Homo sapiens: one gene and its partners. The protein of the gene in region 1 interacts with the protein of each later gene in a pairwise test. Each region holds a gene or a part of one and is shown in the gene's direction. Other genes may lie near its edges. The genes, in order: ZNF76, L3MBTL3, ZC4H2 and LIN37.

What was found.
Region 2: the proteins of ZNF76 (region 1) and L3MBTL3 interact in binary tests that used the Homo sapiens proteins (3 or more experiments, as listed by UniProt).
Region 3: the proteins of ZNF76 (region 1) and ZC4H2 interact in binary tests that used the Homo sapiens proteins (3 or more experiments, as listed by UniProt).
Region 4: the proteins of ZNF76 (region 1) and LIN37 interact in binary tests that used the Homo sapiens proteins (3 or more experiments, as listed by UniProt).

What each region holds. Positions count from the first base shown.
Region 1 is NC_000006.12:35,261,853-35,269,734, forward strand, and holds part of ZNF76 (zinc finger protein 76), read left to right. Parts: intron 1-7,882. UniProt on the Homo sapiens protein: May be involved in transcriptional regulation.
Region 2 is NC_000006.12:130,021,327-130,029,208, forward strand, and holds part of L3MBTL3 (lethal(3)malignant brain tumor-like protein 3), read left to right. Parts: exon of another isoform or gene 1-808; intron 809-900; 5' UTR 901-979; intron 980-7,882. UniProt on the Homo sapiens protein: Is a negative regulator of Notch target genes expression, required for RBPJ-mediated transcriptional repression. It recruits KDM1A to Notch-responsive elements and promotes KDM1A-mediated H3K4me demethylation.
Region 3 is NC_000023.11:64,966,310-64,974,191, reverse strand, and holds part of ZC4H2 (zinc finger C4H2 domain-containing protein), read left to right. Parts: intron 1-7,882. UniProt on the Homo sapiens protein: Plays a role in interneurons differentiation. Involved in neuronal development and in neuromuscular junction formation.
Region 4 is NC_000019.10:35,743,748-35,751,941, forward strand, and holds the start of LIN37 (protein lin-37 homolog), read left to right. Parts: upstream 1-4,828; 5' UTR 4,829-4,977; coding exon 4,978-5,011; intron 5,012-5,066; exon of another isoform or gene 5,067-5,263; intron 5,264-8,194. Other genes in the region: U2AF1L4 (splicing factor U2AF 26 kDa subunit), read right to left, coding at 62-157, 323-398, 576-674, 1,378-1,465, 1,601-1,644; PSENEN (gamma-secretase subunit PEN-2), read left to right, coding at 2,184-2,244, 2,672-2,776, 2,961-3,100.

The sequences.
Region 1 (7,882 bases):
TTGGTGACTTTCTCATCCTGCTGTTCATGACTTTTGATCTCATATCCCCTGAAGCCCCTGCACCTTGTAGGGGAGGGAAAATATCTTCTTAGGTTCATGGCTTAGGCCCCTATAACAACAGATTTAATAAGAGAAGATTATATACATTTATTTAATGTAAGTTTTATGTGACAGGAGCCTTCATAAGGAAATGAAGACCTAAAGAAATGATTAAACTTGTATATTTTTATACTAGATCTGATGAAGAGTGGATAGTTGTGGAAAAATACAAAAAGGGTAATATCAAATAGTAATAAACTGGGAGAAACTTAGCAAGGCCTGTTTGTTCAGACTCTTCTCTGTGTCCCTGTGTCTTCACAGATAAGGGTGCTTCTTTCCTCTGAGTATAGGGAGGGCACCTCTTTATGAGGAGGGTATTATGACCTGCTTCAGGGGAAAGTCAGAAAAATCCTTCCTAGGTTTTGTGATCTGCTTCAGGGGAGAAGAGCCTCAGAGAAAGTGAGAGTGACCTTCCTACTGCCATTTTCTCAAGTTGCCATATTTTGGAGTAGTGTCTTGAACCCAGTCAACTTCTCTCTTCATCCTTTGCCCAAATATCTCTTGTTCTATGAATCTTTGACGCTTCCAGCCCTTTCCCTGTGAACTCACTCACCATACAGTGTCTCCCACCTCACTGGCACTTTACCCCAAATCCTTTCATCTTGTTAAGTCCCTTAGCCCCAGGAATCCACAAGTCTGTATGCTCTAAAACCATCTAGCCCAGTTGCCTTTCATCCTATTTTTTAGTCTCAGTGTTCTACTCCCACCACCCCACCTTCTGCCATCCTCAGCCACATTCTGTGACCTGAAACCTTCATATAATTTGTCCTTCATTTAGTGACCTCTTGATGTGACTAGCTTCAATGGAATCGGCTCCTTCCATCCCAGCATGAAGCAATCCTGTATAACTTGCACACCCTCCCATTCTAAGGCCTCTCCTCTCATACCCTTGCCCAGTATCCTGTGAGATCCTGCCTCTCAGATTCCTCCCTCACCTTTTCAAACCCGGATTGTCTTTCACCCTTCCACAGGGCCTCCTCTTCCTGCCTTCCTCTTATTTGTCCCCTCAGCCATCCTCACCTCACCAATCTTGATAATTGATTACAATATAAATCTCCCTTCCATCTCAGGTCTGCTCCTTTCTTCCTCCACTCTCTTGTGCATCTATCTCCAGGGCCATGCGTATGCCCCTGCTGCTTTCAGCTCTGCTTCCTTCATATGCTGCACTGTTCCACCAAACTTCATCAGTCTCTTCGGTTTATCCAGAGAACTACACTCTTCTCTGGGAACTTCTGATGACTTCTGATAATAGATCACCAAAGGATCTTGGTTTTTTAGAGGGCAGGGAGAGAGCCCTTTGAAGTCCTTCAGAATCAATCTAGCTGTGTCTCCTGGACACCCTCCCACTATCCTATCCTGTTATGAAGCTGCTTGCTGTATATGCCCTCAGAGTAGAATGCTTTGGGTGTCAGCTTCTGCAGGCACTGAATTAGCCCCATTGTTTTCCAAGCCCTGGGAAAACTTGATAATCCCCAACCACTGAAGTCTGAAGAGTCAGTAGCAAAATGTGACATCAAAGATCCACATCCAAAAGTCTATTCTGTGGGTCACCAAATTCCCAGGTCTCTTATAATGTACTTATTGGCTGTGCAGCAATAAATACAGCAGAAACTAAAACTAGAGTTGAGGAAAGGGTATACCCTGGGTTCTACAACTGCTGTGGGTGGATTTTAAAAAGGAGTTCTTGCCTTAGATTTGTTTACTTAGGGCACAGAACTTATTCTGCCTTGTATTTGAGTTATTTGTGTACTTTTCTCAACCCCACTCTGTGAGCTCTGTGAGAACAGAGACTAGGTTTTCTTTTTTCTTTTCTTTTCGAGATGGAGTCTTACTCTGTCACCCAGGCTGGAGTGCAGTGGTGCAGTCTTGGCTCACTGCAACCTCCTCCTCCTGAGTTCAAGTGATTCTCACACCTCAGCCTCCCAAGTAGCTGGTGTTACAGGCGCCTGCAACCATGCCCAGCTAATTTTTGTATTTTTAGTAGAGACAGGGTTTCACCATGTTGGCCAGACTGATCTCTAACTCCTGACCTCAGGTGATCCACTCGCCTCAGCCTCCCAAAGTGCTAGGATTACAGGCATGAGCCACTGCACCTGGCTGGTTTTCTTTATCTTCTGTCTTCATCTCTTCCCTCACATTTAGCAGGTAGTCAGTACTTACCTGTTGGATTAAATTAACTCACTCAGAAATTCTGCATCAGGTGTACAAAAGTAAAAGCAGTTCATGTCTACATTCATTTTGTGGACACAACACCCCTCCCCAAAGTTCTCCAAACATGATAATGGGCATGTCCCTTGATTTAAACGTCGGTAATTTAGACACTTCCTTTTTTAGTCATTGCTCGGGTGGGGGAATGGGTGTAAGTGCTTTTCTTTTTCTACTGTATTTCTGGTAAGATAGGTTGTTTGACGCAGTTGCTCAAATACAGTGGTAACAGCATCAGGGGCTGTCTTATATAAATCTGTTCTCAAGAAAACAGCTAGTTTGAAATATTTAGTGTGGGTTGCAGAGACGATTAAGGAACAGAGGAAACCAAGGAGGCAAAATGTTGGTAATTTTTGAAGTTGGATAATGGGTTCAAGAGGTTCATTATACCATTCTTTCCATTTTTGTGTATGTTGGAAATCCATTATAAAAAGATTAAAGGCAGGGGCAGCTAGGTGAACAAGTGCAAATTTAGCACTGTTCCTTGGAAAACACCTCAGAGCAAATGAGCTACTGTTTCTGAATCAGTACTGTTATCTAGGTTAAGTAGTATATTTAGTCCTAACCTTTCTCTGACCTCTTCTGTTTGTGAGATATCAGGATGCTAAATTTAAAAATTAGCACCCTGCAGAATTCTGTACCTAGTGGCCTGGGAATTGTAACATCCTGGCATCAAGCACCTGTTGCACTGCTTCTCAGCTTAGGTATGGTTTCTGGTGGAATAGGGCTGGACTGGACCTGAGAAGAGGGTGAGGCAGTAAGGAGGAAAGAGGGACTGAGGGCTGGAGAGAGACCAGAGCTCTACTAGGGTCTTCCCCTTCTTGCCTAAAGGTTTCAAGTTACTGGGAGATCCTAAAGGTATATATATTCATTCATTCACTGATTCATTCATCCCACAAATATTTGGTGAATATCTGCTGTGTGCCAGGTACTTTTCTAGGTACTGGGAATAGAGCAGTGAGCTCACTGTTTGAGGAATGGACAGGGTAGAGACAGACAATAAACAAATAAGTAAAATATATATTGAGAAAATTAAGCAGAGAAGGGAGATAGAAAGTGCCAGGAGTAGGCCAGGTGCAGTGGCACACACCTGTAATCCCAGCACTTTGGGAGGCTGGGTTGGGTAGATAACATGAGGCCAGGAGTTTGAGACCAGCCTGGCCAACATGGCGAAACCCCAGCTCTACTAAAAATACAAAAATTAGCCAGGCGTGGTGGCAGGCACCTGTAATCCCAGCTACTCGGGAGGCTGAGGCACGAGAATCACTTCAACCCAGGAGGCAGAGGTTGCAGTGAGCTGAGATCACGCTGCTGCACTCCAGCCTGGGCGACAGAGCGAGACTCTGTCTCAAAAAAAAAAAAAAAAGAAGAAGAAGAAGAAGAAAATGCCAGGATTCTGGGTGTTAAAATTTTAAATAGGGTAGTTGAAGAGGTTCCCACTAAAAAGGTAACATTTGAGCAAAGACCTGAAGGAAGTTAGGGGGTAAGTCAAGCATACATCTAGGGGAAATTTATTCCAGTCAGGAAGAACAGCAAACACAAAGGCCCTGAGGCAGGAATGTGCCCTATATATTCAAGAAACATGAGGAAGCCAGCCAATACGGCTGCAGTATATTAGTGAGAGAAGAAATGGCAGATGTTGCGGTGGGGGTGAATTGGGGGCAGATCACACAGGCCACTGGCTTGTAGTGTGAGTTGTGAGTGAGATGGTAGCCATTAGAGAATTCTAGGCAGATAAATAACATGGCCTGACATATTGAAAAGGTCATTGTGGCTGCTGTGTTGAGAATAAGCTATAACGGGGCAAAAATGGAAGGAGAGAAACTGGTTAGGAGGCTACTACAATAGTCTAAACAAGAGAAGTTGGTGGCTTGAACCCAAGGTGAAGCAATGGAAAGGTGAGAAGTGGTTGGCTTCTGGATGTATTTGGAAAGGAGCCAACAGGATTTGCTGATGGACTGGATGTGATATATAAAAGAAATAGCAGTTGAGGGTGGCTACAATTTTTTTTTTTTTCAAGACATCTCGCTCTGTCGCCCACGGTGGAGTGCAGTGGCGTGATCTCAGCTCACTGCAACCTCCGCCTCCTGGGTTCAAGTGATTCTTCTGCCTCAGCCTCCTGAGTAGCTGGGACTACAGGTGCATGCCAGCGCACCCGGCTAATTTTTGTATTTTTAGTAGAGATGGGGTTTCACCATATTTGCCAGGCTGGTCTCAAACTCCTGAACTCGTGATCTGCCTGGCTCCCACATTTTTGGCCTAAGTAACAAAATGGTAAAATTCCCATCTACTGAAATTGGGGAGCCTGGAAGGAGGGCAGGTTGTTAGAAGGAGGAGATAAGGAATTCACTCTTGAACATGTCAAGTTCGAAGTGTTTTTTGGATATCAAAGTCGAGATGTTGAGTAAGCAGCTGGATATTCAAGTCTTTTGGAGCCTAGGAAATGTCTACTCTCAGGAAATAAAAGAACACCATCACCTGGCAAGAGACAGCGGAGTATGGGAAGAACACTGGTGGTCAGGTGTTAGGCCCTGCTCTGCCACCAGGTAGCTATGTGATCCTTTGGGACTCCTCTGGCAACGCAGGCCTCTGTCTCTTCATCTGCAAAATGACTGCTTTATTTTATTTTATTGTCTATTTCTTTTTTTTTTTTTTTTTTTTTTGAGACGGAGTCTCGCTCGTCACCCAGGCTGAAGTGCAGTGGCGCCATCTCGGCTCACTGCAAGCTCTGCCTCCCGGGTTCACGCCATTCTCCTGCCTCAGCCTCCTGAGTAGCTGGGACTACAGGTGCCCACCACCGCGCCCGGCTAATTTTTGTATTTTTAGTAGAGACGGGGTTTCACCGTGTTAACCAGGATGGTCTCTATCTCCTGACTTTGTGATCCGCCCGCCTTGGCCTCCCAAAGTGCTGGGATTACAGGCTTGAGCCACTGCATCCGGCCCCTTATCTGTTTCTTTGACAAGGTCTTGTTCTGTCACCCAGGCTGGAGTGCAGTGGCGCAATCATGGAGGCTCACTGCAGCAGTGACCTCTCCAGCTCAATCAGTCCTCCCATGTCAGCCTCCTGAGTAGCTGGGACTACAGAGATGGGCACCACCACGCCTAGCTAATTTTTGTATTTTTGGTAGAGAGGGTTTCACCATGCTGCCCAGGCTGGTCCTGAACTCCTGGGCTCAAGCCTCCACCTGCCTCGGTCTCCCAAGGTGCTGGGATTACAGGCATGAGTCACCACACCCAGCCAAAATGACCACTTTAGACTAGGAATGAGTTGTGTTCTCAGCCCCTCCTATTGTGGGAGTTGATGAATTAAGTGCTTAGAATAAACATGATAATATATGTGTATCTGAGAGCATTTTGGAAACTGCTGAGTTCTACACCAGGTAGTGGTATTGGCAATAAGATTTCTTCCTTCATTCGCTGAAGTAATACCCAGTGAGTGCCTGCCATGTGGTGGGCACTATGTCACATGAGGATACGATGATGGAGAAGACGAATCTGTGCCCTCAGGGAGCACCGCAGACAACCCCCTGTTGTGGCTTCACTGCCAAGTGCAGACGAAACATGGGGCTGGAGTGTGACATTAGCCAGGGAAAGCTTGTTCCTGATCTGGGTCTCCGTGGAAACAGTGAACGTGCATGTCAAAGATGAGGCAAGATGGTAATCCCGATGAGGGAAAAGTCATCCACTTAGCTGGACTAGGGAAGAGTTGGGAGTGGTTGGGAAGGGTTGGAGTGGTGGGGGCTTCAGTTCCTTCCCTCCTCCATTCTTTCGTTCAACATTTACTTCCTTGCCAGGAGCTTCTCTTAGAAGCTCACAGTTCTGTGGTAGATGAAGAGTTTCATATCTGGTCTCAGGAGTTCAACTTAGATATTACAATAAGCAGAACTGAATCAGGATTCAAATCTGAGCTAAAGAGCTCAGTTAGCTATGTAACCTAGTAGTATTAATCATTTGGTATCTGTGGGCACATTCTTTGTTAGGTGCTAATTAGGCTGAAAGGCATGCTCTCCAGGAACTTAAATTATAATCACTGTAACAGAAAGTAAGAATGTTATTTTCCCCTAAAAGAGTCAGGTGTTAAGGAAAACACACTCCGTGGCAGTGTAACCCTTTAACTGCATCTGGAAACTGTCCCTGTGGCTGTGTTTATTCTTGTGTCATTTAGATGTCTACGTTTATATCGTGAGGAGAGTCTCTTTGACCAGATAAGAGTATAAGATATAGCTCATCCTAATTGACAAAATTAGTCACCCACAAAATTAGTTTAGAGGAGACATAGTCAACATCTACCACGTAATGGAATGGGGAAATTTTGTCCTGGAGAGTGAAAAAAGAAAAAACAAACAAACAAAAAAAACGAAACCTGGCCGGGTGTAGTGGCTCACACCTGTAATCCGCACTTTGGGAGGCTGAGATGGGCAGATCACGAAGTCAGGAATTCAAGACCAGCCTGGCCAACATGGTGAAACCCCATCTCTACTAAAAATACAAAAATTAGCTGGGCATGGTGGCGTGCAGGAGAATTGCTTGAACCAGGACCCAGGAGGCGGAGGTTGCAGTGAGCCAAGATCGCACCATTGCTCTCCAGCCTGGGCTATAGAACAAGACTTCATCTCAAAAAGAGAGAAAAAAAAAAAAAAAACCACCTGCAATACAAATCCAAGTGCAGCTGAAGCCATTGTCTTTAACAGATGGCCCTAACCTGTTTTGAGTGCTGTTTCCTAAAGCTGCCAACAAACTTCAAATGCCTTTTACCCTGGCAGCTATCAGTCAAGATATAGAAATGTGATGGTCTCACAAATCCTATGCAATTGTCTCTTTTGCTGGCAAAAGTATGAGGCCAGCCGGGTGTGGTGGCTCATGTCTGTAATCCCAGCACTTTGGGAGGCTGAGGCGGGTGGTTCACCTGAGGTCAGGAGTTCGAGACCAGCTTGGCAAACATGGTAAAACCCCATCTCTACTAAAAATACAAAAATTTGCCGGGCATGGTGGCAGGCGCCTGTAGTCCCAGCCACTGGGGAGGCTGAGGCAGGAAAATAGCTTGAACCTGGGAGGCGGAGGTTGTGGTGAGCTAAGATCATGCCATTGCACTCCAGCCTGGGCGACAGAGCGAGACTCTGTCTCAAAAAAAAAAAAAAAAAAAAAAATGTATGAGGCGTACTCAGGCTCCTCTCTTCCAGTTCAGAATCAGAAGGATTTGTGATGTTGGACAGGTCATTCGGGGTCTCAGGCTCATTATACTGTCATTACCTGGAAGCCAGAGTGCCTCTTTTCTAGTGCCTCTATTTGACATTCCCTTAGAGCTGGCCCTCTGGTGAATAGTTCATCCCTAAGAAGGCCAGATACAACTTGTTACCCTGGTACTATCTCACTTCATCACTTCATTTGTTGGGAGTTCCTGCTACTTTTGGATGGTTGATAAAGCATGAGACCCATACAGTTAAGATAAGAACCAAGGAACTGGGAGCTCTTTGAGGTTGTAGAACTGACTTGAGGCTTTGATGTTGGGGATTTGGCAGGGGTGCCTAAGACCAGAGTTCTTTCTCTGAGATCATCTTCTCAACCCAGGAAATACTGT
Region 2 (7,882 bases), about 95 Mb from region 1:
AGCGAGCAGCCAGATGTTGTGTGAAAGGATGCTGATCAGAAATTGAAAGTTTAGTAAATCGAAGCAATGAATTCTGAGGACTCAGACCCTGTAACTTCCATCCGACATGAGTTATATGGGAAAGACACTTTGCTTTTATTCAGAGATTTGAGATTGATCGCTCCCTGAATTGGAAACAATTGTTTGCTTTTGCATTTATCGGTGTCTGTACCTCTGATCAATTTTTAATTAACGAGTCTCAGCTGATGACTTTATTTTGAATGTTAAGAAAACTGCTAAGTTGAAATGTGTTTAAAACTTTGAAGAAATGGAAAAGACCTTTAGTTGAGATTTGTCTTTTATATGAGCTGTTCATTTTACTGTCTGATAAGTGTAAGGCAATTTTATATAGTTTCTTAGCTGTATAGTTATGTATAGTCCGAGTAAGTAGTCCCTTTTGGTTCTAAGACTGTAATTTTGTTTCACTGAGTACGAAATTATTTCTGAATACTTGTATAATTTGTGATTTAAAGTCCTTAAATACATGGGCAAAAATTTTATGTAATATCTATTCTTTTTCCAGTGTGTTTTCTGTAAAATATCTTTAATTTTAAAGATAAAAGCAGTGAGGGAAATTAAAGTTGACTCAAATGATCCTTGTAACTTTCACCTGCCTGTCATATACAACAGGAGAGACGTTATTGGGTGAATTTAGGACATGGGAATGATACGAATGATTAAAATCCATTTCAACTCATCTAGAACCAGCTTATTTTATTTTAATTTACCGAGTGGCATGGTGTAAAATTATGCCTAAGTGATTCAGAATGTAAGCTTCTTAACTGGGGATGGTGGATTTGAAGGTTTCTTTTTGATGACAGTGTTTTGATTTTACCTTCCCTCTCTTTAAACCAATGCTAGAACCCTTAGGAGAAATCTTGAGAGTGGACAGCAATTGTGAAGATCGCCAGAGAGTTCTGTGTTTCATCACCGCCGAAAGGTAAGACCCACTTGTTGAAATAAATTGCTTGACATACCTGCAAATGTTAAAAAGCTGCATTTGGAGATCAGGAAGGAGAGTATGAGACTGGGTTGGCAGAAAAACATCATTTTGTGGGGCTGCTTTGAATGCATGAATGTATTGACACTAAATGTAATTGTAGTTTGGATGAAACATTAGGAAGTTAGGAGATTGTCCTGGATAATCTTTGTATTGCCTTACTTACTAGATTCTTAATTAGCATTTTAGCACCTGTTTTCTACTGAAAGTAAATGTTTTATTCTTTGGAGTTGAAAAAGTGGAAAAACTGGAATAAAATGATTGTAAATTAATATAAGTGTTACATTGTTATACAGTGATATGGAAGATTCTGGAACTCTAAATGTCTTGGGGGGCCAGTGGTAAAATTTTGTGAATGAAATTTACATTGGGTGCTTTGGGGGTATTTGTCACATAACTTCTATGGCTTAAATCCAAGATGGGCTGACTTGTGCCAAGTGCCATGTTGCAGGGTTATGAGTGAGTTTCAGTGTGTTAGCTTAGACTTGTCAACTTTTGAACATACTTCCACAGGGAATACAGCTGTTGTCTACTAAGATCTCTTTAGTAATTTTGGAGGGTGTTGGCTTCTTTCCAATACTCCAGGTCCTTCTTTTAGGGCAAAGGTCATTCTCAGGCAGAGGGGACAGCCATCTCTGAAGGTAGAACATTTCAGTACATTTTTGCTACTCCAGTGCTTTCTACTGTTTATACCTTTTTTTTTCTTCCTTTAATCTTCCCCTCTCCTTTTCTGCCTGTTTTCCTGCCCTCTCTGTCTTGAGTAATAAAGGGGTCGCTAAATCTTGTTTGGCAAAAACAAAAGAAAACCAAAATTAGCCTACCTTTTTAGAGCAGAACTAACAACCTTCATTGGGCCAGGTGTAATCTAGAAATCAAAATGACTAATTATTGATATAAAAATGATTAACAGGAGTTTATTGTCATTTGCTGCTTGTGGATCATTTTGAATTGTATAATTAGCAAAATAAGTAGATCTGGTCCATGTGGATATGCAGCAGAGACAATGGGGCAAGAACAGCTATAGGAAGGTCCTGCAGACAACTAGGGTTCAAGAAGAGTAAAATCAGTTTCCTAAGATGGTGAATTTCATGTTTAAATGTGCTGAGTTGAAGACACTGCTTATTTTTCTTTGTCTGCGGAGTCACTGTGTCTGTGGATAGAATGCTAGAATAGGAATCAGAAGACTAAATGTAATAACTAGATATATCACCTTGTATATGTCACTCTACCTCCTTCAGCCTCCATTTCCTCATCTACAGAGCGGGAACAGCAATACTTGCCTTGCATCTTTTGTTAAAAGAATCAAATAAAATCAGATTTTGAGAACCATAAAGAGTTATTCAGATGTATAGTGGTCATATCATTTTACCTTCGTCCAGCTTTATGAAGGGCTGGAGGTAGATTGTCTAAGTCAGAATATAGTGATTTAACACTTGGCTAAAACTTTTAGATTGGTTTCTGATGTGTGTATTGTATGGACTTCTCGGAATATTTCTAGGAGTATATCTTGTCTTGAGAAAAAAGTAGTTTCCCTTGTATACTATTGGCTCTTTGAGGGAAGAGACCATGCTCTAACATGGTGCGGAATACAAAACCGGAAATTTATTTATCCCAAACTAGTCATTTAATAAGTAGAAGGAGTAAATGAAAGAAATACTTTAAAATGATGCCTAATTGTGAAAATGGTAGGGTGATGAAAGTAGAAGGGTTGGTGTGAGGGGAATTAATGTACTGTAATTAATATTTTAGTTGCATGAGTCTGCTGGGAGATGAGGATGAGAAAATAGGTAACTGGAGTAGTAATGATTTAAACTAACTATAGGGGCCAGAACATGAGTCCTCCGAATGACTGAATTTAGGAAATGTCCAAGTAGGGCTTTTCCTCCTTGTTTTCTAGACCTCTTTGGCTGCAATCTAATTATAGCCAACTATGTAAAATCTAGATTAAAAAAATTGTAAGTACTATCTATTATTATTTTTGATTTGATGCTACTGAACCTGACAAAATAAACCCTGACAGGTTTTAGTTTTACTTCATCTCCACTCTTTGGAGATTATCCAATCAATGTTCTAAGAATCCAAAAACCCAATAGGAGTGGAAAAAAGAAGTATATGTCCTGTTTAATTAGTCCCTGAGTAATTGAGAGTTGATTCTTAAAGAATTTTGACTGGGTTGGTAGTTTATTTTTAAGAATTCCATATTTCAGCCAATGCTGTTTATAGTAGTGCAGTTAGGATGGGGAATTTATGAGAGAACTTACTTTATGTGGTGGGTGGGATGTACCGTTGGCATCCCAAGGATGGATAACTTGAGTGATCCCTGCGGTATTGTTTCTACTAGTTACTTAACCAGTTTTTTTCTGAGCTCTTATGGTGTTGAACACTTAAAAGACGAGATCCTTGCTCTTGAGGAGTTCTAGAGATCCTTACTCTGGGACTAGACATAATGAGCTCTTCTAATAATAGTATAACAGTTGCACATGGTACCATTAGGAAAGGATGAGGGCTCTAGCACTCTTTGGAGCTGTTGAACCAGGAAACATGGATTTCTGGGCTAACTGATGCAGGACCATGGCATATCATCCAATACACATGGCACAATATAATGCATTCCTTTTTTAGTGCTTCGCCTTCAGAAATGAGTAAGAAGCCCTTCACCCACAGTCAAGGAATGTCTAGCAAGAGTCTAGCAAGATGGATTGAGGCGATTCTTTCTTTGACCAGTGTGTTCACAAGGTAACTTTCTGGTGAAGATCTACACTATCTTCCACTGTTACCACTTGCCACTATTGAGGGATTTGTTCCTCACAAGGATTTGGGAATGCTTATAGTATAGGTAAAGATAGTGTCTTTAGAGAGAACTATTTATATGTTCATATGGGTGCACATTTATATGTGACATCTTGAAGTTCAGCGGATCCATGGAAGATATATTTTCTAAAGGGCTTCATTATCTAACAGGAATATTCTCAGATTATCTCTTTACTGTATTAAATTATTTCATTGGTGGTTGTGGATGTAAGTCAATAGTGGGAAATGATGAACGGATTTGTATTGACTGTGGCAGCTATGCAGTGGGTGGATGAAAAGAAGCACCAAGAAAGGGTATCCTTGATATATAACTAAGCTTGATTTATGAAGTAAAATTGGGAAAGACCTTTAGAAAATTCCCATTTGGGAGACAAGATAGTTTGGAGGAATGAACAAGGATCTTTGAGAGGAACTTGAGTAAAGTTAAGTTGGGTGATCTTGGATGAGGGAACTTTCCTCATAAACTGTAGTTTCTTTCTGAGTAGACTTGGAATTGATTAGTTGGATGGTGATTATAAGAATGATATGTATATTATATGTAACAGTAAAATGCCTTCTGCATTATTATTCTTTCTCCCATATATACTGTAAATCATTGTTTTGTGTTCCACCAACAGATACTTATTGAACCTCTATTTTGTCTAAATTACTGTTGTGAACTGCTTCACAAAATCAACAATTACAGCAGGGTTGAATGAATGTATGTGTTGGGGCTACAAAGACATCGAGCATCAATCCTTGGGCTCAGTATATTCCTAATCTAGTTGGGGAGATAACCCATACACATACGATGGCAATTAACAAAACAAAGCCATGGTTAAGTGTGGGTGAATGGTAGATAAATGCTGTAGACACTGTGATGGCATCTCTGGATGTGGTGGTAAATGTGTTCCTGTGATAGGACCCGGCAGATGGGGTTGCTCTTTTAAAAACCCTATGAAGTGTTGATATACAATGTTAAGTGCAATTGTATATCGAGTGCCTTCTGAAGATCAAGCATTAAGCTAGATGCTTTATATTTATTTATTCATCCAAAAAATACTTTGAGTGCTTTCTGTATGCCCAGGTACTGTTCTAGGCACTGACTATTACCTCTCATACTTTCACTAACCTTGAGCACTGGGTATTATTTTTTGTCTTTTAGAGCAAACTGGTGCTCAGAGTTACTTAGTAACTTGTTCATATCATGCAGTTTGAAAGGGGTGGAATCAGGGAAAATGATACTGGCATATGATTGATGTGTCTTTAGGTTTTTGATTTTCAAAATAGTAACACATAGAATATTTTAAAAACAACACATTTCCAGATTAAGGTATGTGCTCTTTTACATTGGTTTACTAAGATGAGCAATAATGAACAGGTATAAGAAAAATAGATGGGAAGAAAAACTGGCTTTACTTTCTTCTTTTTTTTTTCTTTTTAAAACCAAGAATTGAGAAAAGACCAATTATTGAATTATTCTGAAAAGAACACCTTGGTCTAGCCCATGGCCTTGAAATGATCACAAACTGTTGATAAAACATTACTCAGAATAGGCTTGGGAATCACTGGGCTTACTTATATAAAGATTTCATTTGTTCTCTATAGGAAGAGACCCAATAAGGTAGTAGGACTAGTTATGAAAAATATATATATAAAGCATCAATCAATGAAAGAATGGGACCTGCATCTACCAAGGCAGGCTCAGTAGGTTATGAAATTTACTCTAAAGCCAGGATTGTAAAAGGAAAGAAGAAAATTAAGAGAGACAATGGTGGGGAGAAAATGGAGGGGTGGTGTGGTAGAAATGTGTCCTAGAATCAAAGTAAAAGATGAAAACAGGGAATATGACTAAGATCCTGAGCAAGAGTGCTATAATTACTGGTGTTATACACTGTAACCAAAAGAGTATGTCCCATGTTTGCAAAATGAGGTGAAGAGTCTATTTTGACTCATCGGGTGGTTTTGTATTGCAATGGGAATTATATCTCTCTGTTATATGAGTTACGGTGGATCAGGCAGTTCTTCAGTTTGACTTAGAAGGATGCCATTGTAGGCATTGATTACAAGGTAATGGGCTGTTTCTCCTTTGTTGAAGTTCTATTTAAAACATTTTTTGAGCGTATACTATGTACCAGACCTTTTAAAGGCTGGACCATAGCTTTATATTACATAAATTTTGTGGAATTAAGCTAATTTAGTTACTAGAACATTTTGGGTATGATTGCTTAGGTACCAAAATCAGTTGATTATTTTTCTCCATCCATTACACTGTTGAACCCTGAATAGTGAATTGAAATTCCTAGGTGGTCAATCTGGTCTGGTTGTTAAATGATCTTAGTAATTCACCGTATTGGTTTGTGGTCTAATTGGGTGGACTTGAGGCTTAGCTGTTCAGTCTATTGATAAGGAGGTTGGCTACAAATGGTTATCAAGATAAGCCTGTAGACTTCTGTGAAAGAAAAATCTAGCCAAATCTAATTCATTACATGCAAAAGAGAAATCAAGTGTAAATCTTAGCTTTATGTTCTATAAAAATATGAAGCAAAATAAGAAAAAAGATACTACTTTTAGCATTAAAAATTATGAAGTAAAATAAAAAAGAACAAGAGAGTACTTTTAGTTTTTCTTTTAAAATTTTAGTTCATGCATATTTAGCATATGCATAGAAATATCTGTGTCAGGTTCTTGTTCTTTTTATGGCCCTTGAATCCCTCTAATGGGTGTAAAATTTCTATTATTACCCTTCTAGTATAGTATGTTGATGATATGCTAGCACTTTAAAAAATATGTCTGACTCAAATTGAGGTATAGTCTGCACGTTGAACATGAATTTAAAATAAAAGCATTTAATGAGAGTCTATTAAATATGCCATAGGCCCATTAATGTCAGTTTGTGATTTCACTTTCTGTGTACCTTTTTTTTTTTTTTTCTTGAAAGGCATTTTTCATTTTCTGTTCCTTCTTTAGAGGAAGTAAGTAGGTTAGGCCACAGAATCTCAAATAATTCATCCTTCTTACAGTAACACAGAAGGGCAGGAAGTTGAGATTTTGTAAAGGTTACCTTTGGTGACTACCCTTTCTTTGCACATGATCTCCATGGCAGACAAGGTAGCAAATCAGAGAGACCATTGCAACATTATAAATAGGATCATTCACATTAAAATATGACTAGCTGATAAAGGGACAGTGTTTTTGAGAAAATATCAATAAGATGGAACCGCTGTAATGACTGATTTCATGTTTAAAGGCAGCATGGATTAGTTCACACTCAGGTGTCTCCTCTGCAGGGATGGATGAGAACAGAAGACCCAACTTCTCAAGGATTTGTTCTTGATGCTGCTAAGATTTCAGTTCTCACATTGAAATAATGATCTAGAGTTTTTCCTGCCTAAAATCTATGAACTTAGGTCCTTAGGACAGATTTCACATCTCTCCACAACAGACCTTAATTCCAATATATGTGTGATTCAGAGTACTTATCAGGCAGGATGAGTAGCATATCAAAGGTGGTCTCTGTCATGCTTGATTTGAAAGGAATATTTTTCTTCATAGCAATGTGTGTTTGTTGAGAGATGCTTCAAGTGTGAGTTTAGATTTTCTCTTATCCTTATTGAATAAGTCTGTTTAAGAGGTTTGAATTTAACTTCTTTTGATGTGTTCTCCACTGACACTTATATAAGGAGAGTTTCTTGGAGTGGTGATGTTATGCTTCTGCCAAAGAGGTAAACAAATACTTAGCAGCCTAGTTGTTAGAATTTTCACTGGAGAATATGAGCTAGATGGACAGATGAAGGTCTTTCCCTGATTTTTCCTCTCCCCAAGCCCCTTCCATTCCCCTCCAGTAGTGTATTGTATTTTCCTCTTCTCTTTTATTGATTCATTTGGTAAGTTTTATCAATACCTACTATAGATATTCATAAGAGATAACAAAATGGGTAAATCAAGGTCTCTGTGCTTCAAAACCTCCTATAAGTAGATGATCAAGATACAGTGTCATAAGCATTATAATCAGTGTATAGATTCTGTCCTCCCAGCCCCACTTATGTCCTG
Region 3 (7,882 bases), on another chromosome or scaffold:
TTCAACAGTAAGGTGGAGAAGAGAGAGGGAAAAAATAGCTTACAAATATAAAACAATAGAAATCACTGTGGCACTATAACAAAAGCTTTAACATTTATGCCAACAAATTCCCAGGAGAAAGAGGGCAGGATTGGAAAAGTATTGGGAAAAATAATGACTAAAATCTTCCCAAATTGTGCAAAAGACATAAACATTTAGATTCAAGAAGAGGAGCAAACACCAACATAATTGACACAAAGAAACACACTCCAAAACACATTGTAATCAACCTTCTGAAAATGAAAGAAAAAGGAAACTTCTTCAAAACAGCTGAAGAGAAACAAAAGCTACAAAGGAAAAAAAAAATTAGAATGACAGATTTATCATCAGAAACTGACGATGCCCTAGCATTTTGTAAGTGCTGAAGGAAAAGAAGTGACAACCCATAAATCTATGTCCAATAATAATATCCTTCAGTATTGAATGGGTAATCAAGACATTCTCCAATGAAGAAATACTAAGGAATTTAGATATACCCTAAAAAAAGATGATAGTAAGCTCTGAAAACAGAAAAGAAACAATAAACAGTAAGCAAAAGCATGGTTAATGCAGTAGACTTTCTCTTTCCTCTTGAAATTTCTTGTATTTTGATAATTGAAGCTAAATTTATACTGTTATCTAGTGTGGTCTCAGCATATGTAGAGGAAATATTTAACACATTTATATTGTAAACTGGGGAATGTAAAGGGGATTGTAAATGTAAAGAGATGTAAAGGGGAGGACATGCTTCTACACTTCATTCAAGCATGTAAAGTGGTAATGTCAGAAGACTATTAAATAAATTATGTATACATAATATATTACTGAGAGAAAACACTGAAAATGCTATACAAAGAAATGTACTCAAAACATTATAAATAAATCAATATGAATTTTTAAAAAATGCTCCAGTCACCCACAGGCAGGCAGGGCAAAGAAAATGGAGAAACTAAAATTACGGAGAATGAACAGAAAAAAAAATAAAAAGGCAGACTTAGCCTTCATGTATCAATAATTATGTTCACAACAAATAGTCTAAATACCTTGCAAACATTAATCAAAATAAAGCAGGAATGGCCATCTTAATATCAAATAAAACAGACTTCAGAGCAAAGAAAATTCCTAGAGATGGATATTACATAATGAAAAATAGTCAATCTACCAAGAAGACATAACAATTCCAAATGTGTGTGTTCCAAAAGTGACTTAAATTAAACTGCTTTTGACAATTTTACAGTAATATACAAAGGTTAAGCCACTTGGTTTAAGAATTTAAAATGGAGAAAGTACTATAAATATATACTTGATGTTCACATATGGACAGATAAACATGTATGAGAGATAGAAATAAGGAAGGAGCAAAGGGTCAAAGAAACTGAAGAAAGGAACTAACATTTGTCAAGCACCTTTTAATTTAAAAGCTCCTGGCTCATTTACTCTTTAGTCTTCCCAAAGGAAATCTGGGATAGGAATTATTACCCCCACTTTACGGATAAGGACATTGAGGATCAGACAGATTAGGCAACTTTCCCATGGTTACACAGCTAGGAAAGAAAAAATAATATATCCTCCTATTCACATGGCATGCACATTTCAATGTTATTAACTGCCCTTACAAATGCTGATTATCTGATTAACCATTATTCACAGTTCTTCAACTGCTATAATCCTAAATCTCCTGAAGTATAAGCATAGCAGCATATTTCTGTTAAAGAAATAATGTTTGCTGGACAGAAGCAGGAATGATGACAGCAGCATCATCTAATGACCTATTGAAGTCAAGCTAAGAGCCTTACACACATCAAGACACGAGCCCAGAAATATATGCATTCATACTCAGCACTCACACCAATGGCAGAATTTGCAGTGGGAAAAACATCAGAAGCAGATTCTCCCACCACAGACCATTTTCTGCTTCTAACTCTGAACACACGCCTACCCCTGTCTTTCCTCCCAATCCCAATCACACTCCCACATTATGTTCCCAACCTCAGCCTCCAAATCCTACACTAATCTATTTTGCCCATGTTTTCCTTGGACTTTTAAATGGTGATGAAGGAGCATGTAGATAAGTGGAAGAAGAGAGACAAGAATGGAACAAAAGAAGGGAGATAGAAAAGAGGGAAAGGGAGGATAGCAGTAATAAAACAGAGACAGTGAGTACAGGCACCATTAAATGGACCAGAGCCCTACACCAGCTCCCCAAGTACAAAACAATATTTCCTTAAAATGCACATGCCATCCATTCATGTGTATTGCGTACACTCACACCCCGATGTACACATATCCATACACAAAGAGCTTTCCTCACTTGAAAAAAAGAAAAACCATTTTGGAAGGAGATGTTGAGTTAAGTAGGTACTCTTAAATGAATGTTTCTCGACTGGGTCCTTCTTTTCTTTTTTTCTTTCTACACACTCTTTTGAGTAAATTCCTGTACTTCCATGGCTTCAAATATTATCCTCCAAATCTCCAACCTCTATACCCCACCCACATTCATGCTTTAGCCCATACATATGACAGCCTACTGGGCTTGTCCGCCTGGAAGTTTCACAGATAAATCTCAGCTTTATATCTACGTCTCTTCCTACAGCAATCAAGCTCCTCCCCTTAAACCTTTGGTTTAATACCACCATTCTCTGCACAGTTACCTCAGATGGCAATCTGAAAGTCAATGTTGACTCCCCTTTCTCTTTAATGACTCACCTGCAATCACTTAGTTAATTCTATTTCTATCCTGAATATCTTACCCAATACCTGCCCCACTCTCCACCTCCCAGTTCACTGCTCCATTTCAGGCCTTCATTATGAATTGGCATGGATATTTGTAATGCAGTATCCATTTCCATCTGAAGAATTACTTCCCTGTCTACAGTCTCTCCTCTGTCTGCAATGGCATCCACATTGCCTTGAGAACTACCTTCCTAAAGCATGGTTGTTATTTTATTTCTCAAACATCTTCACTAACTTTTCATTGTGTATGACAATCTTTTTGAAAAATACAGGCTGCGTCCCATTATTAGCTCATAAAAAGAATTTAGTTGGTCACTAGTAGCATTTTTAAAAAACCTTTTTTAAAATAAAAAGGAAATTATCAACATACATTGCATATGAAGTAGTAGGTATACTTTGGAGAAGGTTTTGTTTAGTTTTAAATATGTGTATGTGTGTATTGTGTCATGAGGTGAAATTCATTTCTCACTTACGTCATTTCTTACTGTGTCTCTGTTGAACACACATTTACCTATCGGTGTTTCCATGGCATTCATGCTGCCTCCCCGGAAATCTGTCCCATACCCACTATTCTGACCTTATCTGCTACTGCTTTTTATTAATCCTATCCTTTAGCCATATAGAAGTTCTTACTGTTTTATATATTTCCGTTCCACCAGACCTTTGCCTCTGCAGATTCCTCGTTCTAGAATGCCACTCTCCCATTCCAAGCATCTAAATCCTACTCATTTTTCAAGGAAGACCCATATGAAATGCCTCGTCTTCTCCAAAACCTTCTCGAGTTCCCCAGTCAAAATGAATTACAATACCCCAACCACAGACTCCACAGGGAGATTTATTATAGCACTCAAGTTATCCCATCTAATGATGGAATTTTGAATTGATATCCTCCCTTCCTTCCTCCCTTCCTTCCTTCCTTCCCCCCTCCCTCCCTCCCTCCCTTCCTCTCTTCCTCTCTTCCTCCCTTCTTCCTTTCCTTCCGCCATTGGTGTGGCAGTCTTGGTAAGCTCCTCTGTTACCTGGCTTGGGGATTGACTCAGAACCAGTGCTTACTCAAGACCAAGGCACAGGACAACTGGAACCTCTGGGACTTGTGGATGGGCAAATTAAGCCAAACAATGCTGGCCACAGGAGAGACTGAAAAGGTGTTGGCATTTGGTATTGAGATGTAAGAAAGTTATCAGAATGAACTGTTATAAGAAATCTACTTTGCTGACAGTAGCTTTGTTTCCAGTTGAGCAAATAAATATTACATGGAAGAATGCTTAGTACTTAGGCAATATTCTCACCAGACTGGAGTAAGCAGGAAAAACTAGCTCCTTTGTGTTCATTCAGTGACATTTACTGAGCATAAATCTGGGCCATAATCAGGGCTGGGCTATCCTTTGGTGGCCCATCACTTAGGATAAATAAGACCCATCAGAAGGATCTTCTAATCAAAGTCAATAGCTCTGATCTCTCCCTTGAGTTCCAGACTCACATATCTAACTGCCCATTTAACTTACACCCTTGCATGTATCACTGGCATCTCAAACAGGCCCTCAACTCCAGCCCCACCCCTAAACATTTTTATTTCCCAGTCTTCCCCATCTCAGTAAATGCCTCACTATGCTGAAATCTGGAAGCCATTCTTTATTCCTCTTTTTATGTGACCCTCTCCATCCACACCATTAGCATAGTGGTTATTATACTTGACCATGCAGGAGGTTACACCTAAAGGGCTTTTAAATCATTGATTGCTGAGCCCCATTTCCAGGGTCTCTGATTCAGTAGATATGGAGTGGGGCCTGAGAATTTACATTTCTAACAAGTTCCCAGGCAATGCTGCTGCTGGTGGTGCAGGGACTACATGTGGAGAACAACTGCATTAGTAAGACCTGGCCAGTTATACCTATACAATATAATCTGGAATTGTCCACTTCTCATCATCCCCTCAACTTATTAACAAATACCAGCACTTTTCCATCAATCTCCAGTAAACAGTATCTTTTCACCTAATTTTCCCATCTTCAAGGCCTACAGGTCCCAGCTGTCCTACCCTGCTTTTTGAGTGTGCATTGGGGCTGAGTCACCTCTGAAACTGGGTGACAGATGAGCCTGCCAAGTTTGTCCCAGCAATGGATGATCCATGGCCCTAGAACTTCTCCTTCTTTGCACCTGTCCTCTTCCATATTTGCCAGAAAGAAATCATTGAAAAGAAGGTATCCAGCTGAATGTTTTATAGTCTTGGCTCAGGAGACTGTCTGGAGAACCTGTGGCCTAGCAGTCTGCTATGATTTGAATGTACCCCAAATTTCATGTGTTGAAACATAATCCTACCATTTTGATGGTATTAAGAGGAGAGACCTTTCGGGAAGTAATTAAGTCATGAAGCCTCTGCCATTATGAATGGATTAGTGCCTTAGAAAATGACTTGGAATGAGTTTAGACCCTTTTTTGTACTTCTGTGATTCCACCATATGAAGACACAACATTCACTCCCTCTTGAAAATGCAGCAACAAGGTGCCATCTTGGAAGGAGAGACCAAGCCCCTCACCAGACACCAAATCTGTTGGCACATTGATCTTAAACTTCCTAGCCTTCGGACCTGGGAGAAATAAATTTTTGTTCTTTACAAATTACCCAGTCTGTGGTATTGTGTTATAGAAGCACAAACAGACTAGGACAGGAGCTCAGGAATACTGGTCCAAAAGTTACCTAAGACTGTCATCCTGGTGACTGTAGAAACCCTAAAGTACCCTGAAAACCCTGTGGTTTCCCTGTGGTTCACGAGTCATACTAGCTGTGCTTTAGCCTCTTGGAAAAATCTCATTAGGAAATTTTATATATAAAATTGCATCTTTAATGATCTGGATGGCTTCCTCACTTGTAGGGCCAAACATTCCACAGATTTCATCTCATTGAAGCATCCAACAATTCCATGCAAGGCTACACTGAGTCCTACTTTCCAGGTAGAATTTCCAAGGTGCCAAGAGATTCCATGAAGTGCACTATTTCACCCTGAAAATTGATGACTGAGCCAGGACAAGAATTCACCCTACTGGCCTGGTTTTTATGGCTTTAAATCCATCATATGATGAAAGTTCCTTGTTGTGATGGAAAGGTGATCAGATTTACAACGCTGGATTTTCCACTTCCTGAATTTGTCTTCTTGGGCAAGTCACTTTACTTCTCTCAGCCTCAAATTCTTCATGTGTGAAAATAAAGTGAAACATACCTGCCGATATGGTTCTTATGAAGATTAAATTTTGATAGCATAAAAAGTGCCTAATACAGTTGCTGGAACATAGTAGGCACCACAAATATAATAGCTATTGTTATTAAATAAAGCCTTTCTTAACAGACGGTTGCTTTCAGTTCCTGTCACTTAGATAGATTCTTAATAAATATGAACCAAATGAATGAAATCCTTGCCACCCATGGTAATGTCTTTTCTTCTCTGAGGCTACTGATGCTATAATCACTCCCCTGGATTTACTACCTACCATTCAGTAGTTTCTCATTCCAAATGTAATGATTGAGCCCCGCTTATGGCCAAAGCAGAATGATAGGTGTTGTGGAGGTTAAAGAGAGAAATATGGCATAGTGCCACTGTCTAGAAAGCCCTCGTGTATATAATTACTCTGATTTCAAGTTGCTTCATGCATAAATCTGTACTTTTTAGAGGACCCAGAGGACCATGACTATGTGCCTTGTGCTAGTCCCTTTCCCATCCTGGACCTTTATTTATTCACCTCTGAAATAAAGAGGATAGATTTCATGGGTGACTTTGAAATAATGTTCTGACGAGCCCAGGGAATTCTAAGGAGGGTTTTAAAGGGCCACTGTGATAGAGTCAGGTGGTGGTTGAATTTGAGGACAGATTAATGACTCTGGGGGTCCCACTTCCACTTTAACCATAACAGTTATGATTTGTTCCATTTTCTATATTGGATCTCAATCAGTTATTTTATTTGAAGGAAGGGATCTTATCATTCATCCACAAGAACCAGCGCACTTCTGGATAAATGGTGCTTGCTTAATACAATTTTTAAGTCTGCTTGATTGATGGAAGTTTGTAAAGAGGGAATTTGGTATTGTGAGTACATCTAAGCAGTGACTGGCATGACACTCTTTGTAGATTAGAGAGAGGAAGGGCCTTTTATTTAGATTTAATCTTAGCTCAAACTTCTCAATTGCTGGACAGAGAATGGAAGGCTGGGAATTAGATGCAAATCCTGAAGACCATAGTAAAGGCAATCTACCTCAAATGCAACAAATTATTTATTTATTTATTTATTATTAAGCCATTAAGCTCCTTCTCATTTCTCCTGGCTGCCTTAATCAGCAAACTTTAAAAAAATCCATTCCCTCTACGTAAGCCTTTTGACAAGTCATTTATTTTTCTGGGAAAACATGAGCATGCTTAGAAGTTATGTTTAGTGGGAGTTGTAGGTTTAGATTTAATTCTGGGTGCAGTAAGAGGTCATTACAGGATAATTTGAGTTATATTTTATATACCATAGGAAACATCCATTTCAAGTGTACAATTCAGCATGTTTTAATAAATTTAAAGAGTTGTACAATCATCACCATAATATTTTAGAAAATTTCCATCATTCCAAAATTAGCTCTTTGTTCAGTTTCAGTTGATCTTTGTTCTTATCCACAGCCCCAGGAAACCTGTAATATATTTTCTGTCTAAATAGAGTGGCTTTTTCTTGATGCTGCATATAAATAGTTATACAAATGTGGCCTTTTGGGTCTGCCTTCAGTCACTTAGCTTATTGTTTTTGAGATTCATTCACATTGTAACATGTAACAGTATTTCATTCCTTTTTGTTGACAAATAATATCCCATTGCATGGATATCGCACATTTTGGGTGTTCACTCACAAGTTGAGGAGCATTTCAGTTATTTCCACTGTTTTGGCTCTTATGAATAATGCTGCTCTGCACATTTGTGTACAAGTCTTTTTGTGGAAAAATGTTTCCATTTCTACTGCTTAGATTCTCAGGAGTGAGATTTCTGTTTCATATTGTAAGTATATGTATAACTTTTTAAGATACAAGTGTTTTTGAAAGTGGATGTCCTAGTTTCCATCCCAAGAGGGAGTGTATGAGGGTCCCAGTTTCTCTACATCCTCAACA
Region 4 (8,194 bases), on another chromosome or scaffold:
TCATCTGAGGATATAGGGGCCTTAGGACATGAGGAGACATAGCAGGCTGGTCCTGAGGTACCTGCGCCTGGGTCCCCGCCCATAGAGCTGCCTCTGGAGGTTCTGGGAAATGGGCCGCAGATGCATGAAGTTGCAGAAGCCACCTCGGGTACATTCCCTGCATAGAGGGTAGAGAGATGGAGGAAGCCATTGTCACTGACAGCCCCTACCACGCATTCAAAGTCTGGGATTCCAAGTGCCCATCCCACCCTTGAACTACCATACCCCATCTCATACTGGCGACAGCATGACTCCCGGAAGTCAGTGACAGGAGACAGCTCACCGTGCACAGCCTGCCCGTTGAACCAGCGGTTACTGAGTTCAGCCACGGCCCGCTCTCCATCCTCCTCCCTCCGGAACTGCAGGAAATGTCAGTCAGGGTCAGCAGGAGAACTCAGAGATCTTCAGGGGACTCACTACCCGCTCTGGGGCTGGACTGGATTTAGTGATGAAATTCAAGCTGAGAGCCTACAGTGGCCACCATCAGGCATTGAAACGCCTCCACTTCTGGGCCCTAAGTGGGGGGCAGCAAGCACCTTGACATAGACGTTGCCCACGAGGTGGTCCCCAAGGTTGTCGCACACATTCATCTCTTCAATCTCCCCATACTTCTCCTGCAGTTCTGTGAACACCTCCTGTGGAAGACGGGGAGGAACTCAGCTGAGCTCCCACAAGAAACCCCATCTGCCCCTACCAACCCTCACCTCGAAGAAGCTATCATAGTGCTCCTGCACCTCCACGTCACTCACATGACCTGGGGTGGGGGCGGGCAGGGTGGAATCAGAGTGTAGCCTACTGGGGGCTGTTCACCTTGCCCCCAGGCCTGGTCCCTTACTCACAGTGTGATCCGTCTGCAGTTTGGGCTGTGTTCTGTGGATTCCGGTACAGGTTGAGCAGCACTATGGTCTGCACAGAATTTAAAAGGGGCGGGGCCTGAGCTCAGAGGGCAGGGCTGCATGAACAGAGAGTGAGGCATGAAGGTTGGGGGTGGAACCTTACACCCCAGCCTAAGCATCATGAGTGCATCGGCGATCCTTTGCCCCTAAGAAACCAGAAAAGGGATGGAGGGGACTGGCAAGGATGAACAGCGGGATGGAAGGGACTGGCAAAGATGAACAGCCGCCGTGTGTAGCCTGTACGCATGGGGGCGCGACCAAGTTCCCGGGAAAACGGCACGAAGACCGGTGGGAGGAGCCTGCAGAAAGGTCCAATGAGAAAAAAAGCCGGGCGGTGGGGAGGGACTCAGGAACCCGGAATAGGCGGGACATGGTGACGACGGCCCCAGAAGGGGAAGGGCCAGGGAGCCGTTAACCCCCGAGGCTCCGTGCCGGGTCTCACCTGGCTGAATGTCGGCTTGTTGTGAAGCCGGGAGCACCGGTCCCCGTGCCGGCAGACCCCGATCTTAAAGTAAAAAGAGCAGTTAACCCTGGAAAAGGTGCAAAGACAAAGGTGAACCGAGGGCCGGGGAAGCTGGGCACCCCAGAAACACCGCCCCACCACCCAGGACCCCAGTACCCCGGCCCCGACCCCCCGAGAGTCCACTCCCAGCGCCCGTTCTCACTTGTCCTTCTCAGTCCCGAATATCGAAGCTAAATATTCAGCCATTTTTACCCAAGCCCTCCAGGTCTGGCTGCTCTTACGTCACTTCCGTTGCTTAGGAGCACTGGGAAGTGTAGTTCGTTGCCCTCTCCAGGCGCTTACCAAGCGCTCGGAAACGCCCCAGGGCGCTTGCGCGTGGGAGGCGCGCGCCCTCCCCATAGACTCCCCGGTAGGAGTTCTTTTAACAGCGCATGCGTGCAGTGTTGCCTCGCCCAAAGAAGACTACAATCTCCAGGGAAACCTGGGGCGTCTCGCGCAAACGTCCATAACTGAAAGTAGCTAAGGCACCCCAGCCGGAGGAAGTGAGCTCTCCTGGTGAGTTGGGGGTCGTTTCGCCCACCCTAGTAAATATAAAGAGCTCTTTAATCCAGCCAGCTTACTAGTGGGGGTGGGGATGCCCTGCTTTCAGCAAACCGACCTTTACATTTATCTCTGATTTGTTCTAATAGGGGCGTGGTTGTTCGTGATCCTTGCATCTGTTACTTAGGGTCAAGGCTTGGGTCTTGCCCCGCAGACCCTTGGGACGACCCGGCCCCAGCGCAGCTATGAACCTGGAGCGAGTGTCCAATGAGGAGAAATTGAACCTGTGCCGGAAGTACTACCTGGGTAAGGCAGATCGCTAGGGTCCCAGGAGAAGAGAGGGGACTGGACTAGAGCACCCGAGGGAAGAGGGCCTCGGGGCCTGGATTCTTAAGTCTAAGAGATGAAGGACCTGCGAACGCCGACTCCTGGATTTGAGTGGGGAGGGCCTGGGTCCTGAGGAATGAGGAAGCTGGGGCCTCAATTTCTGGATCCCAAGAGAGGAGGGGGATTGAGGGCCTGGACTCTTGGGTCCTGTGAAAGAGATGGTTGAGGAATCAGATTCCTGGATCCCAAAGAGGAGCCAGATTCCTGAGTCCCTGACAACAGAAATCTCCATTTGAACTTGGGTGTGGGAGAGTTTCTTCCAAATAGATCTCGGTGGGAGTTGGAGAAGATCTTCATTGCCTTATGAGGTTTTGGGGTTTGTTTGTTTGTTTTTCTTTCTCCCTAGGGGGGTTTGCTTTCCTGCCTTTTCTCTGGTTGGTCAACATCTTCTGGTTCTTCCGAGAGGCCTTCCTTGTCCCAGCCTACACAGAACAGAGCCAAATCAAAGGCTGTGAGTCTAGAGCACAGAGGAGGGAGGCCAGTGGCAGGGGAGAGGGGGAAGCGGGGAATCTTGGTGGGAAGGGACAATGGAGGATCCAAAATGTTGGGGCTCTGGGTGAGAAGGGAAGGCTGGTCTAGGGAAGTCTGGAGAGCAGCCGGAGGCCAACCCTTCCAGCTTCTGTTTCCCATGACAGATGTCTGGCGCTCAGCTGTGGGCTTCCTCTTCTGGGTGATAGTGCTCACCTCCTGGATCACCATCTTCCAGATCTACCGGCCCCGCTGGGGTGCCCTTGGGGACTACCTCTCCTTCACCATACCCCTGGGCACCCCCTGACAACTTCTGCACATACTGGGGCCCTGCTTATTCTCCCAGGACAGGCTCCTTAAAGCAGAGGAGCCTGTCCTGGGAGCCCCTTCTCAAACTCCTAAGACTTGTTTTCATGTCCCACGTTCTCTGCTGACATCCCCCAATAAAGGACCCTAACTTTCGATACTGACTTCCTGGGATCTTTTAGAGGTTGAGGCATAAATGATTATTAATATTTAAAAACATCTGTTGAGAGCTTTGTACGAGGCTTAGTATTTAGACATGATGTACATTTTTTACAGTGCATACTACTCATAATCTTCTGAACTAGGAACTTTCCTGCTCAGGAAACTATTAGATGAGAAACTAAGAAAGGAATAGTGCTTCCATTTCTTTTTCTTTTTTCTTTTTTTTTTTTTTTTTTGAGACAGAGTCTTGCTCTGTCAGCCAGGCTGGAGTGCAGTGGTAGGATCGGCCTAGTGCTTCCATTTCTAGGGGCTGTTATCCTGTACTGGTAGTCGTGAATTCAAAAATATAACTTTCCTACTGTGGGCTGCAGTATTCTCATCAGAAGTGTAGATCACGATGCTACTTCCTGGGATTTATCTGGACCAAGACGTGTGACAAATGGAAGTTTCCCGTTTTCTGAAGGAAGTGTTGTCTGCAAAAATAAAAATAGTCAAGAGCTTTCTCAGAGAATCCTTCCTTGACCATCCATCTTATTTAAAATTCAATCACCACCTTGATATTCCTATGTCCCTTTCAGGCTACACTTTTTTTGTGGGTTTTTTTTTTGGGGGGGGAGAGGGGTTTGTTGTTGTTGTCTGTTTGTTTTTCTAGATGGAGTCTTGCTCTGTCACCCAGGCTGGAGTGCAGAGGTCCGATCTCGGCTCACTGCAACCTCCGCCTCCCGGGTTCAAGCGATTCTCCTGCCTCAAACTCTCGAATAGCTGGGATTACAGGCGCATGCCACCATGCCCGGCTAATTTTTGTATTTTTAGTAAAGACTGGGTTTCACCATGTTGGCCAGGCTGGTCTCGAACTCCTGGTCACAGGTGATCTGCCTGCCTAGGCCTCCCAAAGAGCTGGGATTTACAGGCGTGAGCCACCATGCCCCGCCCAGATCATATTCTTTCTCCTATTACATTTCACTTAAAATTTACTTGTTTACTGTTTATCTTCCCTCCTTTAAAAGATAAGCTCCATTAGCGCAGGGATTTTTGTCTATTCTGTTCCTCAAGGTGTCTCCAATGCCTAGAAGAGTGCCCGACACACTAATAAATATTTGCAAAATGAATGAAGTTGTACCTGCAAAGAGATTAACAGATACCTGGCACCTAGCGAGTGCTCAGTGAGAGGGAACCCAACGTTATTTTACATTAGTCTTCCTCTTAGGGATGAAGGGACCCCAACGGTTGGTTAAATCCGGTAAAGAGCTAACTTGGTGTTGCTCAACCCTTCTCACACTACAAGTCCCGGGAAGCCTCGCGATGCCCTAATCCTTTGTTTCCCACCGTGCCCCGCGCGGCGCAGGCGCTGTTACTCAGGGTGAGTCTGGGAAGCTGGAACTACACCTCCCAGGAAGCTAGGGGGTAGATGGTTTGTTTCCGGAAGCAAAGCCCCAGGTGGGTGGGACCTAAAGCTGGGAGACTACGGAGGCAGCTCTCAATTGGTCAGGATGCGAGATTGACGGCTGCAATAACTAATAGGAACAAGCTACTGCCGAAGGGGCCCGCCCACAGAAGGGTGGTGGCCACGGTCCAGGCTGGACACAACCAAAGGCGGAGGACCCGTGGCCCACGAAGCTCATCTTTGAACTGTCCCCGCCTTCTCCCGCCTTGACTTGTGACCCTAGGCCCTTTGGGGCGCCTCTGACCCAGCTAGCCAGATCCCGGACCCAAACCATGTTCCCTGTGAAGGTGAAAGTGGAGAAATCAGGTGAGGACCCTGACGTCGGGGGCCTGTCGGGACCATCGGGTTGACAGGGTGTGGAGTCCCGGTGGAAGGGAGTATCGCGGAAAGGGGACTGCACGACTTTTCCCTGAAGCCCACCTGACAATCGCTGTATCAGGCAGCGAGCGTTGCCTGCCACCTTCACACCCTCCCGGTGTGCGCTTGAAGTCGCTTTGAGATTGAATGGGGTGGCTCGGGCAATGACGTGCGTGGTAGGACATGGGGAATCCTGAGCCGGTAACTCTGAGAAGGGCCCTTTTCTTTCCTCTTTTTTTTAATTTAAATTTTTAAAATATTTAAATAGAGACGGAGTATCGCTATATTGCCCAGGCTGGTCTCGAACTCCTGGTCTCAAGCGATCCTCCCGCCTTAGCCTCCCAAAGTGCTGAGATTACAGGCGTGAGTCCCCGCGCCCAGCCGAGAAGTTCTCTTTTCTTGGCTTCCCCTCAGTTTCCCCATTTCCAGCAGTGATCAGAGTCACACATCTTGCTGTGAGCCTGAAGTACAGGCACTCTTAATCCTCACAGTCACTATATTCCAGTAATCCTAGAAAATAGGAACTGTGGTCAATGGGTGAAGCTTAGAAAGAGGAGAGAATTTTGGGTTGGGGCGGAGCTGACCGGATCCCAGGCCTGGCATGGTAAGGGCAGTGGGAGGGGTGCAGAATTTAGACAGAAAGATAATAGTAAAATGATGTAGGATGTCCCATGGCAAAAGTGTTATTAAAACAAAGTGGGAGGCTGGGTGCGGTGGCTCACACCTGTAATCCCAACACTTTGGGAGGCCGAGGCTGGCAGATCACTTGAGGTCAGGAGTTTGAGACCAGCCTGGGCAACATAGCGAAACGCTGTCTCTATAAAAAATACAAAAAAAAAAAAAAAATTAGCCAGGTGTGGTGGCACAAGCCTGTAGTCCCAGCTACTCAGGAGGCTGAGGCAGGAGGATCGCTGGAGCCGGGGAGGCGGAGGTTGCAGTGAGCTGAGATCACACCACTGCACTCCAGCCTGGGTGATAGATTGAGACCCTGTCTCAAAAAAAAAAAAAAAGAAAGGAAAAGAAAAGAAAGAAAGAAAAGAGAAGTGGGTGTGACCACAAATGATGGTGAGGGAAGGTGTACACCTGTGAGTGCCAGGCTGAGGAGTGCAGACTCCACCCCTGGGTGCTGTGGAGTCATGGAAGTTTCCAAGCAAGGGAAGATCAGGGTCAGGTTTGTTATTTTTCAGGAAGATTCCCCTGGCTGCCTTGTGGAGGGTGTATCAGAAGGGGGACACTGAGGCAGGGAGCCAAGGGGGAGCAAAGGACAGGACCAGGATGGGTAGAGTAGGGAGGAGGTGGGTGGGAGAGACACTCGGGAGGCCTAGTGGACAGGCCATGGGGTTGGTGGGCTGGGTAGGGGAGGGAGAGGGGTATCCATGGTGAGGTACAGGGAGGGACTTGGGGACAGTGAGGCGACCCTTGAGAGGGAGGCTTCAGGCCCAAGTCGGGGGTTCAGGAGAGAGGCTGGGCCTGAGGAGAGTTGTGGACGTGATCCGTACCCTCTGCATCTGCCCAAGGCTTTGCTGCAATCTCAGCTACTCCCTTCCCCACCCTCACTCTGTCTCTCCTCTGAGCTATGTTTGAATCCCTGTGTCTCCTGGGCTTCTCAGGAAGTCCCTGGACTGGTCAGGCAAGTTCCCAGGTGTCCCCTCCAGGCTCTGAGCACTAGAGCCAGAGCTCCCACCAGTCAGAAAGGCAGAGCAAACACCTCTCAAAGGTAGGAGGACAGCGTAACATCATCACTTCCTCAAGTTCTGTGATGACGGGAGGCAGCCACAGGCTAACTGGGCAGGAAGGTGGGCCTAGATCTCATTTCCCGAGGGGGAAAAAAAAGCCCAAACAGGATGTTTTAGGTGAAATCTCCCAATTTTGGCTGGGTGCGGTGGCTTCTGCCTGTAATCCAGCACTTTGGGAGGCTGAGGCAGGTGGATCATGAGGTCAGGAGTTTGAGATCAGCCTGGTCAATATGGTGAAACCCTGTCTGTACTAAAAATAGAAAAAATTAGTTGACCATGGTGGCACGCGCCTGTAGTCCCAGTTCTTTGGGAGGCTGAGGCAGGAGAATCACTTGTACTCAGGAGGCAGAGGTTGCAGTGAGCCGAGATCACGCCACTGCACTCCAGCCTGGGAGACAGAGCAAGACTCCGTCTCAAAAAAAAGAAAAGAAAGAAATCTCCCAATTTTTAAATGTCAGCTCATTCAGATTGAATTCAGATTTAAAATTATACCACTGTTGGCCGGGCATGGTGGCTCACGCCTGTAAGCACTTTGGGAGCCTGAGGCCAGCAGATCACTGAGGTCAGGAGTTTGAGACCAGCCTGGTCAACGTGGTAAGACCCCATCTCTACTAAAAATACAAAAATTAGCCAGGCGTGGTGGCGGGCGCCTGTAATCCCAGCTATTTGGGAGGCTGAGGCAGGAGAATCACTTGAACCTGGGAGGTGGAGGTTGCAGTGAGCCAAGATTATGCCACTGCATTCCAGCCTGGGTGACAGAGCAAGACTCCGTCTCACAAAACAGAAATACATTAATTAATTAAAATAAAATTATACCACTGCCTCAACCAGATTCTGCACTCAGGTTGAGCCTCTGTCTCATAACTTCAGCTTTGGAACCAGACAGCCTGGGTTCAAATCATCAGCTCTGCAATTTCTTTGCTGTGTGCCTTTGAGCACGTGGCCTAACATCTCTGTGCCTCAGTTTCATCATCTTTAAAATAGGAATAAAAATCATATCTATCTGAGCTGGGCTCTATGGCATGTGCCTATAGCCCCAGCTACTTGGGAGGCTGAGACAGCAGGACCGCTTGAGCCCAGGAGTTCAAAACCGGACAACATCGTGATATCCTTTTTCAAGAAAAAAAAAAATCACATCTACCTCTAAGGGTTATTGTGATAATTCAGTGGGTTATTATTTGTAATATATAGCATATTTAAACCTTGCCACTGGGACAGGCACAGTGGCTCACACCTGTAATCCCAGCACTTTGGGAAGCCGAGATGGCTCACCTGAATCTAGGAGTTCAAGACCAGCTTGGTCAATATCATTAAGACTCCATCTCTATACAATTTTTTTGTAATAAATTTATATTATATTAAAACACATTTTTTTAAAACCCAAAAGGCTCATAAG